2 linked regions of the Homo sapiens genome follow. Each later gene encodes a partner of the first gene's protein in a complex. Each region holds a gene or a part of one and is shown on either strand. Other genes may lie near its edges. The genes, in order: PNPT1 and SUPV3L1.

Region 1 (7,359 bases):
GGAGTGCAGTGGCGGTCTCAGCTCACTACAACCTCTGCCTAACAGGTTCAAGTGATTCTCATGCCTCAGCCTCCCAAGTAGCTGGGATTACAGGAGCCTGCCACCATGCCCGCCTAATTTTTGTATTTTTGGTAGAGATGGGGTTTCACCATATTGGCCAGGCTGGTCTTGAACTCCTGATCTCAAGTGATCCACCCACTTTGGCTTCCCAAAGTGCTGGGATTACAGGCATGAGCCACCACGCCTGGCCAGTTTTTTATCTTAAAATAAATATTCATGTGAGAGTATATTTGTCTATTAGAAAAATTAACAAAAACTATGTCATACTTCATTTATATTCAGTTTGTGTGAGGTTGGTATTATTACTATTATTTTTATTTATTTATTTATTTTTTTGAGACAGAGTCTCGCTCCGTTGCCCAAGCTGGAGTGCAGTGGCGCGATCTCGACTCGCTGCAAGCTCCACCTCCTGGGTTCACGCCATTCTCCTGCCTCAGCCTCCTGGGTAGCTGGGACCACAGGTGCCCGCCACCACGCCCGGCTAACTTTTTGTATTTTTAGTAGAGACAGGGTTTCACCGTATTAGCCAGGATGGTCTCGATCTCTTGACCTCGTGATCTGTCTGCCTCGGCCGCCCAAAGTGCTGGGATTACAGGCGTGAGCCACCGCGCCTGGCCAGAGGTTGATATTATACAGTAAGATCCTTTGCTTAATAATTTCTGGAGAGCTAAATTACCTAAGTTCTGTATCTTATGATTCCACTAGGTATTAAGAATAGCATCAGTTAACATTTATTGAACACTTACGGTGTGGCAGGCACAGATGTAAATGATTCACTCATTTAATCCCCATAAACCAGGTATTATTAACACTGCAATTTCACAGATCAAGAACTCAAGAATTTTAAAGAATATATTTGGGTTTTCAAATGATAAGATACCAGGTTACATTTCTTGTATGGTAGGAGTTTGATTCAGAAAAGATCAGGAACATTCACATTCAACATTTACTAGGTACCTACTCTGCATCAAATGTAGTGCTAGCTACATTCATAGAAGTTAATTTAGCAGTAACCTTGTGAGCTATCATTATTACAAGTTTATTGAAAATAAAGCTGAGAAGCAATGAGAGTAACATTTATTTGAGATCTTCAACTAAAGTTAAAAAAAAAAAAAGTCTATTATTTCTTTTAATGCTTTTAAAATTAAAAAATACATAGTAATAGCGGTTCTGTGCAAAGGGGACTTTCTCTTTCCCCGAAACAGTTCGGGGAAGCTTTGGAGAAGAGGTGGCATTTGAACCTTGGGTTAGAAGAAGACCACCTGCTATGAGAGAGCATTCTAGGTCTAGGGAACAGCAGCTGTAAAGTTGAAAGTCCTTTGAATTCTTCTTTTCCTACAGATGTGATGCCTTTCCTCTTTGACCTTTAATCCCAAGAAGCAAGAGTCAGGCCATGCCTTATTAAAGCTGCCCTCAGCAAAAAAATAAAATAAAATAAAATAAAATTTACCTTTTAGTTGTTCCTCCGTATCTAATCTTATTTTGTTAACAGCTTCATCTCTGGAAACCTAAAAGAAAGTTGAGGTTCAGTTATTACATATACATGACAACATTTAATATTTCTGTTTTCTAATTATTATACAATGAACACATTGTGAATTACTCTGATTTCTTTAATATTCTTTAAAATATTGGAATTGGTTCTTGATTTATGACAAATACTACATGTTAATTCATTCAAATACATTTGTACACTCCCCTAAAACTTATATTAAAAAGAAAAGAACTTTGGGTGGCCAAGGTGGGCAGATCACTTGAGGCCAGGAGTTTGAGACCAGCCTGGCCAACATGGCCGTCTCTACTAAAAATACAAAAGATAGCTGAGTGTGGTGGCGTGCACCTGTAATCCCAGCTACTTGGGAGGCTGAGGCATGAGAATCGCTGGAAGGCGAAAGTTGCAGTGAGCTGAGATCATGCCACTGCACACCAGCCTGGGCGACAGAGAGAGACTCTGTCTCAAAAACAAAACAAAACAAAAGAATGGAGAAACAATTAGGCTTTTGTTAGTTTTTCATTTAGAGATTTTTAATAAAAATAGGACTAGCATTCATAAAGAAAATTACATGAGTTATGACAAAAATGTATTCCTAGGGCAATTATGGAAGACAAAACTCAGGTATACCTACTTTGTCATGCTCGTAATCTGTAAAAACTGCATAGAGTCTCTCCATAGCAAGTCTATTTAAGCAGAAAATAAATGTTAGCATAATAATATCTGGAAACAAGAGGCAGTTTCTATTATAAACAAAACTGAAATATTTAATAATAATCAGCTAAAACTTTAATAAATACTTCAGAAAGAATTGAAAATTTATATTGCTATTTATCATTGCTAATCTGTTTACTATTTATGGTATAGAACACAAATTTCTTTCTCCCACCCTCCCAGGGGAAACCACATGTAGTATCCTGTTCTTTTCTTCTTAATTGTTCAATTAATTTCACCTTTCATATATTCTTTTTAACCTCTTCCTTTCTTCATTCTACCCATTTTGGCTCCATTATCACATGAAACTCTTTTGCTAGAAAGAGTTAATTTAATTTCCAACTCATGGCTGTGCAACTGACATTAAGGGAAAGTATTAACCTTTTCAATTTTTTCAAATAAAATAATTTTCCAGTGATTCATTTACATTTACTGAGTGTCTGCCTAACGTTCTAAGCACTGGGCATGTAACAGTGATTACCTCTGATTTCTTTTTGAGAATTCCAACAGTTTCCTTAGATATTCAAATATCTTAACGTTTTATTCTTTTTCCTAGACGTGGAGAGATGTGGTGCTTACCTGAATCTTGACCAATAAACACACTCTTTCATTTGAGATTCAAAGTTAGGTCTTACAAGAGTGATGTGGGCTTATCCTTTTTAAGGGAGTAAGCAGATATTTATGGGAATGACTCTTAAAACAGAAAAGTGCTATTTATGAAGTAATGCATGGGCAGTGCTTCCATGGGAAGTTTCTCTCCCACGAGGAAATTAAATCTGATGACAATTTCATATTTTCATTTGCACAGATGTTCTTACTTATGAGTATATTTCACAATCTCTGGCGAAGGGGTAAATAACTTCTGAGGTGTCCTCTTGGTAACACCAGTTTCTTTTACCAACTGCTGAATGCCCTGAATTATTTGTTGGGTATATTTCACTCCCACTTTGATAGCATGGCAAAAGTCCTGCTGTAAAATGTTCTCTGCAGAGGCTTCCAACATGACTATTTAAAGGAAAAAGAAAAAAAAAATGACTGCCATCGAAGCTCTTAGTAATATAACATTTTCAAATACCATGACATGACATAAATATTATGGATCAATTTTACTTCTTAGTGATAGATCCACCTTGATTTCTTTCCTCAGAATCAACATACTTCCAAAATGTAAGCAGCGGTAAATGAATAAAGACACCTTGATATCTGTATTTAGGTTTACATTCTCCTTAAGTTTAAGGAGGGATTTCCCATAAAAAATGAAACAGAAAAAAAAAAGAAATCATGCACATATTTTAAAAATAAGTTTTATTGAGCTATAAGTCACATAAAATAAAAATTAAATCTTTTAAAGTATACAAGTGCATTTGTTTTTAATACTTTTTTTTTTTTTTTGAGACAGAGTCTCACTCTGTTGACCACGCTGGAGTGCAGTGGCGCAATCTCGGCTCACTGCCAGCTCTGCCTCCCAGGTTCACACCATTGTCCTGCCTCAGCCTCCCGAGTAGCTGGGACTACAGGCGCCCGCCACCATGCCCAGCTAATTTTTTGTATTTTTAGTAGACATGGGGTTTCACTGTGTTAGCCAGGATGGTCTCAATCTCCTGACCTTGTGATCTGCCTGCCTCAGCCTCCCAAAGTGCTGGGATTAGACGTGAGCCACTGTGCCTGGCATCTTTTTATATTTTTAAAAGGCCATATGTATGTCCTTTTCTGTGAACTGTTTATATTATTTGCCAAAGTGACTTTAGGTGATCTGCCTGCCTTGGCCTTCCAAAGTGCTGGGGATTACAGGCGTGAGCCACTACATCCAGCTAATTTTTGTAGTTTTAGTAGGGACGGGGTTTTGCCATGTTGCCCAGGCTGCTCTCGAACTCCTGACCTCAGGTGATTAACCCGCCTCAGCCTCCTAAAGTGCTGGGATTACAGGCGTGAGCCACCGCTCCTGGCAATACATATTTTAAATAAAATGTAAAAATATGTAACACAATAGGAATCTAATAAATATTTCCTGTTTAACAATTAATTCTCACATTGTCTAATTCTTGCACAGATGGGGAAATCTCTGCAGTGATCCTGTTTCAAGTAAGCCAACTAAAGGACTGAATAATAGAATTTTTTCTATTGCATTAGAAATAGCTAAAGGAAGTTTTCTAAACAGAAATGAAAAAATAAGAGAAGACATCGTGGACTGTTAGAAAGGAAAGAAAATCAGTATGCAAACTAAGAATAAATATAGAGGCTGAGCGTGGTGGCTCACACCTGTAATCCCAGCACTTTGGGAGGCTAAAGTGGGCAGATCACCTGAAGTCAGAGTTCAAGACCAGCCTGGGCAACATAGCGAGGTCCTGTCTCTATAAAAAATGAAAGAATTAGCCAGGCATAGTGGCGTGCACCTGTAGTCCCAGCTACTCAGGAGGCTGAGGCATGAGAATCACTTGAACCCAGGAGGTGGAGGTTGCAGTGAGCTGAGATCACGCCACTGCACTCTAGCCTGGGCGACAGAATGAGGCTCCATCTCAAAAAAATAAATAAATAAATAGAGAAAAAGAGTAAATACAGAGCAATAAGCTTTTCTTTCCCTCTTGAGTTTTCTAAATTATGTTTGACAGTTGAAGCAAAAGCAAAAATTGTAACACTGCCTGATATGGTTCTAACTGTAGAAGAAAATGATAACAATTGCATTCCAAATGGGAGAGGGTAAAGGGAAATAAGGTTTCCATATTTTGCACCAGGCCTGAAGAAATTTCTTCTGATACCATGATACTGAGATGGCTATATTCTTTTTCTCATCTGTATTTCCAAGATATCCTCTCACTTTGACAGGATTAATCCGGAGATTTTTAAAAATTCATTTAATGGGTATAAATTATATCTCAATAAATTGCTTTTAAAAATAAAATATGTGGCCAGGTGTGATGGCTCATGCCTATTGTCCCAGTACTTTGGGAGGCCAAGGTGGGAGGATTATTTGAGGCCAGGAGTCTGGGACCAGGCTGAGCAACACAGCAAGGTCCTGTCCCTAAAAAGATAACAACTAGAAGATAAAAAACTCAGCTGCGGTGGTGTGCCTGTAATCCTAGCTATTCTAGAGGCTGAGGCAGGATGATCACTTGAGGCCAGCAGTTTCAGGCTAGGCTACAGTGAGCCATGATCACGCCACTATACTCATACTCTAGTCTGGACAATAGAGTTGAGGAGAGTTGAGAACCAGATTCAAAAAAAAAAAAAATATGGCTGGGCATGGGGCTCATGCTTGTAATTCCAGTGCTATGGGAGGCCAGGACAGGAGGATTGCTTGAGGCCAGGAGATTAGCCTGGGCAATATAATGAGATGCTATATCTAATAAAAATAATGGTAAAATTTAAAAAATAGAATATGACAAAGAAAAATGGATACCCCCCAAATAAACTTTGTTTTCACTCATTAAACTTTAATGCAATTCCTTTTAAAAAATACTTTCTAAGAAAATTTCTTTAGCCAGGTGTGGTGACATGTGCCTGGATTCCCAGCTACTCAGGAGGCTGAGGACATAGGATCGTTTGAACCCCACAGTTTGAGGCTGTAGTGATGTATAATCACACCATTGCATTCCAGCTTGGCAACAGAGTGAGACTGTCTTAAAAAAAGAAAGAAAGAAAGAAAGAACACTCCTTACAGTTGAGTCTACAGAGCTGTGCTGTCCAATATGGTAACTACTAGCCACATATGGCTACTTGCATTTAAATTATTTAAAATTAGACAAAATTAAAATTTTGGTTCCTCAGTTACTCTAGCCACATCTGAAGTGCTAAGTAGCCACATGATCAGATATAAAACATTCCCTTCACTGCAGAGTTCTACTGGACAACACTGCTATCGATGCTAAAAATTTAAACATAAAAGCTTGTCAAAATGATTGCTATAGGCCCAGCGTGGTGGCTCACGCTTGTAATCCCAGCACTTTGGGAAGCTGAGGCAGGTGGATCACCTGAGTTCAGGAGTTTGAGACCAGCCTGGCCAACATGTTGAAACCCCATCTCTACTAAAAATAAAAAATTAGCCAGGTGTGGTGGTGCACGCCTGTAGTCCCAGCTACTTGGGAGGCCGAGTCAAGAGAATCGCTTGAACCTGGAGATGGAGGTTGCAGTGAGCCGAGATTGCGCCACTGCACTCCAGCCTGGGCGACAGAGTAAGACTCCATCTCAACCAAAAAAAAAAAAAAAAAAAAAAGAAGATTGCTATAAACTGTCAACCATTTTAGCAGTTGAAGATGAAGGAGTTTTGAGATTAGCTGAAGCTATAAATTCTAGACCCAAAATATCTTCTAAAAACATGTTACTGGTATACTTTTTCCTGACCGATATCTTCTCACACACAGAAATATTAGTGATATTAAATATACCAGTTGAAAACAAACATCTAAATGGTACGGTTCAGAATGTTGGTGTTGAAGTAACCCAGCAGCTGACAGCATGGAGTAACTATTCTTGCCGTGTAAGATTATACTCTAAAGATCTGGATGACTGCCCGGGAGTGGTGGCCCATGCCTGCAATCCCGGCACTTCGGGAGGCTGAGGCAGGTGGATCACCTGAGGTCAGGAGTTTGAGACCAGCCTGACAAACATGGTGAAACCCTGTCTCTACTAAAAACACAAAAATTAGCCAGGTGTGGTGGTGCACGCCTGTAATCCCAGCTACTCAGGAGGCTGAGTCAAGAGAATCACTTGAACCTGGGAGGCGGAAGTTGCACTGAGCCAAGATCATGCCACTGTACTCCAGCCTCGGCAACAGAGAGAGACCTGGTCTCCAAAAAAAAAAAAAAAGATTTGGATGACTAAATGACTAAATATTTTAATAATGAAATAGTAGCAATTACTTTTTTGTATTTTTGTATCACAGAAGTTCCATGATGGTGGTATTTCACTTGGACCCGATGTTAACTTTAACAGGTAAACAAGGGGTTAAAATGCATATTTGATGCATCTTTATGAAAGCAGAGAGAGCTGGCTGAATAGCTGCATGGAAATAGTGATGCAAAAGTCATAAAATGGAGGCTGGTAATTCCTAAAAACCATCCCCTTACAGGTTGGTTCTGAATCACTCTCAGCCTCCC
Region 2 (5,572 bases), on another chromosome or scaffold:
AACTTCGTTGAACAAGTGTAGGCTGGCCTTTGGACAAGGGAAGACCACCCTACCTAAAACAGCCCTTCCCTGCCACTCAGCATCACTCTTTCCTTATTCTTTCTAGCATTCATCTCTAAAATTACACCCATTCATCTCACAAAGAATGATTTTGCTTCTGCTATATTCCAGATACTGTGGATGCAGTAGTGAAATAGACTACAATCTCTGCCCTCACCGATCTGACAGGATTTATTTGTTAACCTGTTCCTGTCTCTCCTACCAAATATGAGATCCATGAGGGTAGAAGATTGTCAGTCTTGCTTACTGCATATTTCCAGCACCTAAATAGCCTCTGGTATATGGGTACAACAGACAGCAATGTTTGTCAAAGAACTGCATCCATGACATCCTCAGCATGGCATAGGAAACTGGTCAAACAATTCACCAAAGTGATTTTATTCCCATGCAGAGTTCCTTATAGTGCACTGTCTTAGTACTATTCTACAAATGGCCATTATATAAAGACTTAAATTAAACCTCCATGATATCCTAGTATTTTCTAAATGTTGAAAAAAAAAAAAACAAGTTTAGTCATCAAGAGAGATTTTTCTGTGCAAAAAAAGAAAAAACAAACAAACACACACACAAACACACACACACACCAAAAATCCCCCAGTACCAGATAGCCACAATACTAGAGGAGGGAGTAAATGCATATGAGGAAAAAGGATTCAAAATAAATTTTTATTTGCAAAATTAAATAAAAAAAAAAAAACAGGAACAGAAAACTAGTCCGAATCAGGTTCCTTCTTCTTTCTTCTCGTCCCTTTTGGATGAGTCCCAGACTCTGTTTTTTCTTTGTTGTGTTCAGTTTGTTGTGTCATCCACTCTTTTTCTAGCTGTTTCAGCATGTCTGGAGTGAGGAGTCCTTGCTGCACCAATCTGGAAGCAAGGGACAGCTCTCCTGCATCGGGGCTGGGTGGCTCAGTAGCTTTACTCCCTAGAGCTTTGGTGCCGCGTGTCCTTCTAGCTTGGCTCTTTAAGGTTCCTGACAATCGTGACTGGCTCCCTGATGGAAAGCCCTCCAAATTCAACAGCTTATGCGTCTCAGACATTTTAATCAATTTAGTGATATTGTGCACACCATCTTGGATAATACCATCTAGTTCTTTCTGGAGATCTCGAATAAGGCTGGCATCTGGAAACATATCCATAAATCGGTAGCTGGGAAAAAGACACATTAGCATTATAGCAACAGCTCTTATCGCAGTCACTGGACAACTCTCAATGGCACACCTACATCATGACATTGATAAATTCTAAATGTTCTTTTTGCAAACTCTCTTCAGTGCCTTTGCTCAACCTTGATTTCTGCCCCCACATATCGGAGGAATATGTCATCCTGAGGGTGGGTCAGCACTATACCTCAATAGACTCTGATATACTCCTGGAGAGGGACATGCCCCTCCTTTGAGAATCACTGGCCTAGAACAGGACTTCTCAAATGATAATGTACAAGTGAATCACCCAGGGATCTTGTTAAAATGCAGAATCTGATCAAGTCAGGCATGGGCCTGATACTCCTTAGTTCTAACAAGCTCCCAGGTGATACCAATGCTTTTGGTCCAAGGACCATCCTTTGACCAGCAGGAGTCCAGTGGACCTTCCTTCTCACCTAGCCATCTTAACTAGAATTGCAAGAACTCAAGTCATTTTTGGAATGGGAAACCATTCCATCAGTTGAATTGCCTTTATGGACAATAGACATAATATAGAGCATCTTGCAAATATGTCCATAATTTGAAATAGAAAAACAAATTCATAAAACCTTTAATTTGTCCTACTAGAAAAATGAGAGCACATAAAGGAAAAATGTTGGTACCTTAGCCACAAGTAAAGATCCAAGACATCGTGGACAGCTTCAAGATCCATGAGGTCTTTAATATTCTTAGGTGGAAGTAAAGGCCATTTGATGTATCGGCGTAACCATGCAAAGGTCAGGGGCTCATTCCTGCTATACTGCCTGGCAAACTGAGAGAGAAAGAGGAAAAGGGTTTCAGAGAAGTGTCAGAATTCCCTTAAGTCTATAATTAGAAAGAGAAAAAAAAGAAAGCAAAACAAAACATTGTGGTTGTATTTCAATAGACAGGTGGTTTCTTTTCTCCTTTATACTCTTCTACATTTTAAAGAACATTTAATACTTTATAAGGCCAGGTACAGTGGCTCACGTCTATAATCCCAGCACTCTGGGAGTCTGAAGCGGGTAGATCACTTGAGCCCAGGAGTTCGAGACCAGCTGGGGCAACATGGAGAAACCCCATCCATACAAAAAACACAAAGAATTAGCTGGGCATGGTGGTGTGTGCCTGTGATTCCATCTACTCCTCAGGAAGCTGAGGTGGAGGATTACTGAGCCCAGGGAGGTCAAGGCTGCAGTGCGCCATGATCGTGCCACTGCACTCCAGCAGTGAGACCATTTGGAGAAAGAAAAAACAAAAAAAGATGATTTCCTTCTTTTTCTAAAACCAGGGTAATAATATGTGCAGCAGAAGTTCAAGGGCTACTCTGGGCACACTACCTATAGGGTATCCCTGCTCCACAAGGAGCAGTTAAAAAAAAAAAGAAGCTGTAGAAGGACTAACTTTCCAGGGCCTAAGTCTGTTAACTCTTATTTAGGAATATGTGATGTTCTAAAGCTATGGACAGACAGTACCTGAAGACTCCTATTTCTATCTCATATGTAATAGTCCTATAACCTCAAATACGAGCTTAAGTTTCTCTATCTTGTTAATGTCCTCCCTTATTTTTTATTTTTTTGAGACGGAGTCTCGCTCTGTTACCCAGGCTGGAGTGCAATGGCACGATCTTGGCTCACTGCAACCTCCGCCTCCTGGGTTCAAGTGATTCTCCTGCCTCAACCTCCTGAGTAGCTGGGATTACAGGCGCCCGCCACAACACCCAGCTAATTTTTGTATTTTTAGTGCAGACGGGGTTTCATCATGTTGGTCAGGCTGGTCTCAAACTCCCGACCTTGTGATCCACCCGCCTCGGCCTCCCAAAGTGCTGGGATTACAGGCGTGAGCCACCGCACCTGGCTGTCCTCCCTTATTATATAGAAACCCTCTGAGGTGGCCTGGTGCAAGGCTGGTCAGAAGTCAATCTTGGATCTGCCTCCTGCGAGCTGTGTGGCTTTGGCCAAGTCAACACTCTTTGCTTCAGCTTCCTCACTGGTAACGTGAGACATCACAGCCCTGTCTTGAACCACAAGACACTGCTGGGGAATGTGCTTTCAAAACCATGTTGCATCCCAGAATTAGGCAATATTATACATCACCTGTACTACAGAAGATAGACATACAACCACACAGTAAGACCCCTCAAGCAAGAGTTTAAATAAAATCTTCAGCTTCAAGATTCAAGCTGATTTCAAATGATTCATTTCCTGATTAGGGGAAATTATCTCTAAATGCTTAACCTAAGCAAGGTTAATACTTCAGAGAGGAAGAGCAGTTTTAGATCAATTGTAGTTAAATAATGCCACAATTTTGTTAAATTCAGTCTGGTCCACTCTGCTAAGTTTAATAAATGCCAAGTAGGATAGCCATAAAGGGTAGAAATGTGACCACACTACCTGCTAGGCAGGACAGGCCAAGCATGAGTTCTCAAGTTATCTTATAAAGGCAGTGGCTCTATTTTTTTTGGCCACAAACAACTAGTGGAAGCCCAATACATAAAAGAGCTAAGTAAGGAGCTATGCAGAGAGAGCAGGGAGAGATGCCCGCCCATCCATCCATCCATCCATCCATCCATCCAGCAGCTGGCCCTAAAGGAGCTCCATGGAGCACAGCTTCCAAATCACAGTCCTAAGGGGCATCCTAAGTCATTAATGTGATTGAGCTCTTTCATAGTTCAGTAATGACAAAGATCAGGAAAAAAGGAAAAGCCTCTAGATTTCATATTCTAATTTTTAAACAGAAAACACACGGAGCGGCCGGGTGTGGTGGCTCATGCCTGTAATCCCTGCACTTTGGGAGGCCAAGGCGGGTGGATCACTTGAGGTCAGGAGTTTGAGACCAGCCTGGCCAACATGGTGAAACCCCATCTCTACTAAAAATACAAAAAATTAGCCAGGCATGGTGGCGGGCACCTGTAATCCCAGCTACTCGGGAGGCTGAGACAGGAGAATCGCCTGAACCTGGGAGGCGGAGGTTGCAGTGAGCCAAGCTCATACCACTGCACTCCAGCTTGGGCAACAGAGTGAGACTTCATCTCAAAAAGAAAACACACCACGCATCATGGCGCACACCTGTAGTCCTAGCTACTCAGGAGGCTGAGGTGGAAGGATCGCCTGAGCCCAGGAGTTTGGGGTTACAGTGAGCTATGATTGTGCCACTGCACTGCAGCCTGGGCAACATAGTGAGACCTTATCTTAAGAAAACAAGCAACTGTTGACCTGCATGTTCCAGAGACTCCCTACACCTTAGTAAAGAGCTTCTATTCACTAGAATAGCTGTTTAAAGGATGGTGTGAATGGTGCCAAGGCCATGGGACTGAGTTCCACTCAGGTCAGTTTACAGCAGTTCAAGACTGTTCCATAAACTTCAACCTTATGCTAGCTAAGTTTTTCACAAATGCCAGCTCTAAGAAACATATTTTCTAGGTAAACATCTGGACATGGAAGATCTCTAACACATATTATTAAGAGAAAAAGAAAAGGCAAGTTGTGAGTAATTCATTAAGATAACGTTGATAGGGCTGGGCACAATGGCTCATGCCTGTAATCCTAGCACTTTGGGAGGCTGAGGCAGGTGGACTGCTTGAGCTCAGGAGTTCGTGACCAGCCTGGGGAACATGGCGAAACCCTGCCTCTACAAAATATACAAAAATTAGCCAGGCATGGCACATGCCTGTAATCCCAGATACTCAGGAGGCTGAGGCACGAGAATCGCTTGAACCCAGGAGGCAGAGGTTGCAGTGAGCTGAGATGACACAACTGTACTCCAGCCTCAGCGACAGAGTGAGACTCTGTCTCAAAAAAAAAAAAAAGATAATTTTTTATGGGGAAATGCACCCTCACAACAAATCTAGTGTTTCCACATGAACATGCACATAGGCAAACGCAATGAAAAACAGTCTGCAAAGATACACACAAACTTACACAAGTAGTTATTTCAGAGGACTAAGATTGGGGAGGGAGCCACATTTAAGCTATCTGTAATGTTCTCATTTTGTATAAAGAGAATGTATGTATTATTTATGTAATTTTTTTTTTAAAGGGCAGAGTCTTGCTATGTTGCTGGAGATGTTCTCGAACTCCTAGGCTTAAGCAATCCTTCCTGCCTCCCAAAGTGCTGGGATTACAGGCATGAGCCACAGCACTGGACTATTTATGTTATTTAAAAAATAAGTTTAGAGCTAGATTTGATTAGAATATAGCTCATATGTAGAATGCTCAGGCCTACAGAGGAAATGGCAGTGAACCTCAGTGAGTCAGGACAAGATTCAGAGAAGAGGAGGCCTTTGGGTTTAGTGGGGTGGGGAGAGCATGCAAAGCAGAGGAAATAGGGCGGGAGGTGAGAGAACATGTTAT

Evidence for each region.
Region 2: PNPT1 (region 1) and SUPV3L1 share a complex: the UniProt entries of both Homo sapiens proteins name them as parts of the mitochondrial degradosome (mtEXO) complex.

What each region holds. Positions count from the first base shown.
Region 1 is NC_000002.12:55,669,809-55,677,167, forward strand, and holds part of PNPT1 (polyribonucleotide nucleotidyltransferase 1, mitochondrial precursor), read right to left. Parts: intron 3,272-7,359; coding exon 3,085-3,271; intron 2,239-3,084; coding exon 2,187-2,238; intron 1,569-2,186; coding exon 1,511-1,568; intron 1-1,510. UniProt on the Homo sapiens protein: RNA-binding protein implicated in numerous RNA metabolic processes. Catalyzes the phosphorolysis of single-stranded polyribonucleotides processively in the 3'-to-5' direction. Mitochondrial intermembrane factor with RNA-processing exoribonulease activity.
Region 2 is NC_000010.11:69,204,234-69,209,805, reverse strand, and holds the end of SUPV3L1 (ATP-dependent RNA helicase SUPV3L1, mitochondrial), read right to left. Parts: intron 2,014-5,572; coding exon 1,865-2,013; intron 1,207-1,864; coding exon 771-1,206; 3' UTR 713-770; downstream 1-712. UniProt on the Homo sapiens protein: Major helicase player in mitochondrial RNA metabolism. Component of the mitochondrial degradosome (mtEXO) complex, that degrades 3' overhang double-stranded RNA with a 3'-to-5' directionality in an ATP-dependent manner.